Regions from separate parts of the Homo sapiens genome. Here region 2 is linked to region 1. Evidence: fine-mapped expression QTL. A gene starts in region 1. The other region holds a variant in brackets. All regions are shown on one strand. Distances are between the middles of the regions.

What was found. PIP is the estimated chance that this variant, and not a neighbour inherited with it, causes the effect.
Region 2: its variant is the best candidate, but not a certain one, in a credible set for the expression of UCMA in uterus (GTEx, PIP 0.71).

The regions. Positions count from the first base shown.
Region 1 is chr10:13,233,233-13,236,139 of GRCh38, reverse strand. It overlaps UCMA (upper zone of growth plate and cartilage matrix associated), which reads left to right and starts at 1,766. Exons shown (of 5, transcript NM_145314.3): 1 at 1,766-1,939; 2 at 2,340-2,405; 3 at 2,507-2,602. The coding sequence starts at 1,882. RefSeq lists an enhancer at 1,153-2,063.
Region 2 is chr10:13,265,952-13,268,858 of GRCh38, reverse strand. No RefSeq gene overlaps it. Among named protein-coding and RNA genes, the nearest start is that of PHYH, 33 kb to the left of the region's middle. The variant A/G (reference allele first, on the strand shown) is at 1,529.

The sequences.
Region 1 (2,907 bases):
GGTCTAGAACTCCTGGCCTCAACTGATCCACCTACCTCAGCCTCCCAAAGTGCTGAGATTACAGGCATGAGCCACTGCGCCCGACTGAAAGTCTTTCTTTTTTTAAATAGACATGGGGGTCTCGCTATGTTGCCCAGGCTTATCTCCAACCCCTGGCCTCAAGTGAGCCTCCTGCCTCGGCCTCCCAAAGGGCTGGGATTTCAGGCTTGAGCCACTTTGCCTAGCTAACATAAAAGTCTTGTAAGAGGGGAGCTTCAGGTAGGTATGGGCTGGGTTCTAGGTCTAGTGATGGTTCCCATTAGACAAACATTAAACGATGCCAGAAGGCTGACAGCAAAGAGTTGATGGTTCCTAACAAAGGCAACATTAGGAACACATCTCCAAGGGGACTGAGCTCTAATGGCCATGTTGGTGCTGATTTCATTAGTGGTCCCATTTCTGGGAACCCATTTCCTCCCCTACATGGAGTATGATGTGTGTCTTCCTAGAGATGCAGGATTAGCTGTGGAGCTTTTCAGATACCTGCCCTTCTCCCCCTCCGCTGTGGAAGGTGATTGAATTTGGCCTTGCTGTTTTTAAATTTTTTTTTTTTTTTTTTTTTTGAGATGGAGTCTCGCTCTGTTACCCAGGCTGTAGTGCAGTGGTGCAATCTCGGCTCACTGCAAGATCTGCCTCCCGGGTTCACGCCATTCTCCTGCCTCAGCCTCTCTGAGTAGCTGGGACTACAGGTGCCCGCCACCACGCCCGGCTAATTTTTTTTGTATTTTTAGTAGAGACGAGATTTCACCGTGGTCTCGATCTCCTGACCTCATGATCCGCCCACCTCTGCCTCCCAAAGTGCTGGGATTACAAGCGTGAGCCACCGTGCCCGGCCGCTGTTTTTAACTTTTAAATTTTTATTTTATTTTATTTTATATGTATTTTTTTTTTGGGACTGAGTCTTGCTCTGTCACCCCAGCTGGAGTATAGTGGCGCGGTCTCGGCTCACTGCAACCTCTGCCTCCCGGGTTCAAGTGATTCTCCTGCCTCAGCCTCCTGAGTAGCTGGGATTACAGACGCCCGCCACCATGCCCGGCTAATTTGTTTATTTTTATTTTTAATAGAGACAGGGTTTCACCGTGTTGGCCAGGCTGGTCTCGAACTCCTAACCTCAGGTGATCTGCCTGCCTCGGCCTCCCAAAGTGCAGGGGTTCCAGGCATGAGCCACCGCGGGAAGGCAATTGACTTTAAAGGGCTCTGGGACCCGCGGCCCCAGGAGTTTGTGTTTGGCTTGGCAGTGAGCATCAGCTGGAAGCAGTGCATCAGGTAAGGTGTTCTCTGGTCGCTGTCAGCATGACCCACACGTCTGTGTGTCACCCTGATGGGTATTCCAGTCATTATGAGCCCTTCTTGACTGACATTTAGATCAAAACTCCCCCATTGATCCTCTCTTCCTCCTTGCCCCCACCCATGCTTCAACCCTGAGGACCGGGGCCCTAACGTCCCTGGAGCAGGTGCCAGGACCTCCTTGACACAGGCCTTGGTCACTGGAACCCTGACTGTTAGGATGAGCCTTCCCAGCAGCAGATCCCCAGACACGGACATTGGAAAGGCCACTCCAAGACCGTCCCACCCAGGGCCCTAACTACAAGCTCTGCTTCTGGAGACATTTGCCAGGTGCCAAAAACATCTCCGTTGCTCCATCTAGGAGCAGCCAATGGAAAGGGCAGCCCAGCCCCCTCCTCCTCTCCCCCAGTGGTATCCCAGCCTCCTGCCTCTCTCTTCCCTCCCCCGCCTTCCTTCCTCTCGCCTGGGCTGCCTGCCTCAGAAGTGGGGACCCAAAGGGTGCAGGACGCCTGGTCTGCCTTGTGGGTCCTGGACGGAGCCCCTACCTCTGCAAAGATGACTTGGAGACAGGCCGTCCTGCTGTCTTGCTTCTCCGCCGTGGTGCTCCTGTCTAGTGAGTACAGGAGGGTCAAGGTGGAGGGTGTTAGTTACATGGTAAGGGAGACTTACCATGCACAGGTAAGGCTGCTCAGGTGATGCAGGTAGAAAGGAGTATGCTTATTGTTAACATGTGTGTATGTGTGTGTCGTGTGCATGTAGGACACAATGCAATACAGAAAAATAATAATAATAATAAAAAACAGTAAAGAAAGAAACAAAATAGAAAAAAAACCCAAGCCAGCTTGCTTGGTGGGTTCCTGGGGAGATTGGCTCTGCAGCTGGTACGTGAGAAACCACGGGCCCCCTGCCAGGCCCTGGCAGGACGCTTAGCCTGGAAAGAGAGATGGGGACTCAGCTCAGGGTCTGGGCTCCCCTCTGATGCTGCAGCCTCACTCTGTGCCCTTGTCCTGCAGTGCTGAGAGAGGGAACCAGTGTATCTGTGGGCACCATGCAGATGGCGGGAGAAGAGGCGAGTGAAGGTGAGTGCAGGGGCCACCCACGGGGCAGGGCAGGTGCAGCCAGCGAAGCAGCAGCCCCAGCACCCCCACACTGCTGGTGACAGGCCTCTCCCGGGTTTCAGATGCAAAACAGAAGATTTTCATGCAGGAATCAGATGCCTCGAATTTCCTCAAGAGGCGCGGCAAGCGGTCCCCCAAGTCCAGAGATGAGGTCAATGGTAAGGATGCTGGAGGGACCCCATCCCGCGTCCATCACCACCTCTGCTCACACCCCCCGGCTCCTCCTCTCCCACAGTCAGCCGGGCAGCAGGATGCAGCTGGGCACGAAGGGCTCACCCCAGGGTATCAAAGGGACTGCAGCTCTGAATGAGAAATTACACCCTATTTCCTGACTGTAGGTCGTATATTGGATTGAATACTTTGTCAGGGTTAGGAGGCCCCACCTCTGCAAAGATGACTTGGAGACAGGTCCTCTTGTCCTGCTTCTTGGCCATGATGCTACATTAAACACACCTAACAGGGA
Region 2 (2,907 bases), 33 kb before region 1:
AGGTAACTTGACTCTTTGTTCAGGGCTCAGTCCTTTGGATGTTAATCCAACTGGGTCGGTGCACCTAAATAATTAAATAATTCCTCCTCAACACCTCGGTCTCTGTGATTCCTTAATTATGCTGCTGCAATCCCATCACCCAGGTACTGAGCATAGTACCCAGGAGGTAGTTTTGGAGCCCTTGCTTCTCTTCCTCCCTCTCCACTCTAGGAGTCCCCAGTGTCTAGTGTTCACATCTTTATGCCCATGTGTGCCCAATACTTAGCTCCTATTTATAAGTGAAAACATGTGGGGGGTGTTTGTTTTTCTGTTCTTGGGTTAATTCCTTTAGGATAATGGCCTCCAGCTGCATCCAAGTTGCTGCAAAGAACATGAGTTAGTTCTTTTTTCGTGGCTGTATAGTATTCCACGGTCTATATATACCACATTTTCTTTATCCAATCCACCGCTGATGAACTCCTGGATTGGTTCTACATCTTTGCTCTTGTCAGTAGTGCTGCAATGACACTTTGGAACTTTTGAGCAGCCGATGAAGGTTTGGGATTTTCAGACTTACTTCTTCTATGGTTGGTAATGCCTATCCAAGCATGATTACAGTTTTATTAATATGCCTTCGTTGTTCCAACATTCTAATCCCTTTTTCTCGGTAAAGTTGCTATTCCTTGATACAATCTATACCTCTTATAAGAGAGAGCCAGCCTTTGTCATGGGCTTGAGACAACTTGAAACATCACGGCAAGGGTAATCCCTCCTGCCAGCCCCTCTCATCCCCAACTCTATCTAAACAATTATGGCAAAGATGGAGTTTGGAGATCTCTCTAGTGGAAAAAGGGTGTTCAGGGAATTGCGGGCCGACAGAACAGAAATTAAAAAGCCCAATTTTTGTCCCCCTGAGTCACTGATTTTTGTGCTTTACCTCCAGAACAAAAGGCCTCAAAGAACACAGGCTTTCTTAGGAAAAATGTAGTTAGCTGTGTCTTCAGCTCCCAGGGTACATCTTACTATGCTTTATGGAGCTGAACATCCCTCCCTGTATTACCTAATCAGACAGGCTGAACAATACAGTGGAGCAATGCTGAGTTTGAGGTCAGACAAACCTGCGCTTAATTTCTGACTCTCGTACTAACCAGCTGTGCGCTCTTGGGTAAATTACTTGACTTCTCTGGGTCTCAGAGTGCTCATTTGAAAAATGGAAGTAACAAGGCTTAGCTGGGCACAGTGGCTTACGCCTGTAATCCTAGCACTTTGGGAGGCTGAGGTGGGCAGATTAGTTGAGGCCAGGAGTTCAAGACCAGCCTGGCCAACGTGGTGATACCCTGTCTCTACTAAAAATACAAAAAATTAGCCGGGCGTGGTGGCACGCATCTGTAATCCCAGCTACTTGGGAGGCTGAGGCACGAGAATTGCCGGAACCCAGGAGGTAGGGGTTGCAGTGAGCCATGATCGCAACAAAACAAGGAAAACAAGGTTTATCTTCAATCAAAAGTGAAAACATCTAGCTCGTTGGCAGAACATCGAAAGAGATCAT[A/G]TGGTAGAGCAAGCATTCCGTAAGTGCTGTAAAGTGTTGTAATGCTTGTTAATCTTCACAAATGTGAGGCAGGGTAAGTATGTTTTGCTCCATTTTTGGTTATACATTCTTTTTTTTTTTTTTTTTTTTTGAGGCCGAGTCTCACTCTATCGGTCAGGCTAAAGTGCAGTGGAGTGATCTCAGCTTACTGCAACCTGCACCTCCTGGGTTCAAGCAATTCTCCTGCCTCAGACTCCCGAGTAGCTGGGATTACAGGCACCAGTCACTATGTCTAGCTAATTTTTTGTATTTTTAGTTGAGACAGGGTTTCACCATGTTGGCCAGGTTGGTTTTGAACTCCTGACCTCAAGTGATCCACCTGCCTTGGCCTCCCAAAGTGCTGGGATTACAGGCATGAGCCACCGTGCCTGGCCTGGTTACCTATTCTTTGAAGAATAATTTAGTTGCTTTGAGTAAGAGATGAAGTTTGTAGATCCAGGAGTTCTAATTTCTGGAGCAGGTGTTTCTATCATACCACAGGCAGATCACTTGATGATGCTTTTTGCTTACAATTGCAAAGAAATTCACAAGCTGTGGTTTATCTTCCCTGGTAGAACTTCAGCAGACATGCGACAGGAAATGTCTATCTTAGCCTCAGTTCCTTAAAAAGCAGAGCAGGTAGCTCACGCCTGTAATCCCAGCACTTTGGGAGTCTGAGGCAGGAGGATTGCCTGAGGTCAGGAGTTCGAGACCAGGCTGGCAAACATGGTGAAATCCCCTGTCTCTACTAAAAATACAAAAATTAGCTGGGCGTAGTGGCACGTGCCTATAATCCCAGCACTCAGGAGGCTGAGGTAGGAGAATCGCTTGAACCTGGGAGACGGAGGTTGCAGTGAGCCGAAATAGCGCCACTGCACTCCAGGCTGGGTGACAGGGTGAGACTCTGTCTCAAAAAAAAAAAAAAGGAAATTTTGATCCATGCTGAAACATGAAGATCCTTGAGGACATTATGCTAAGTGAAATAAGCCAGATGCAAAAGGGTAATTACGGTCTGATTCCACTTACGTGGAACGGACATCCCTAGAGTAGTCAAATTCACAGAGACAGAAGGTAGGATGGTGGTTCTCAGGCGCGGGACGGAGAAAGAGTGGGGAGTTGTTGTTTAATGGGGAAAGAGGTTCAGAGGGTGGAAAGTGTTCTGGAGATGGATGGTGGCGATGATCGCACAACAGTGACTGTGCTTGATGCCACTCAACTGTACACCTAAAAGTGGCTAAGATGCCAAATTTTATGTTATGTGTATTTAACCACAATTTTTTTTTTTAAAGAGCATAAGATTTTTAAAAGGATGACGGGAACTCTAAGCCCAAGGAAAAAAGGTCTCTGGTTTTCCCGTTAGT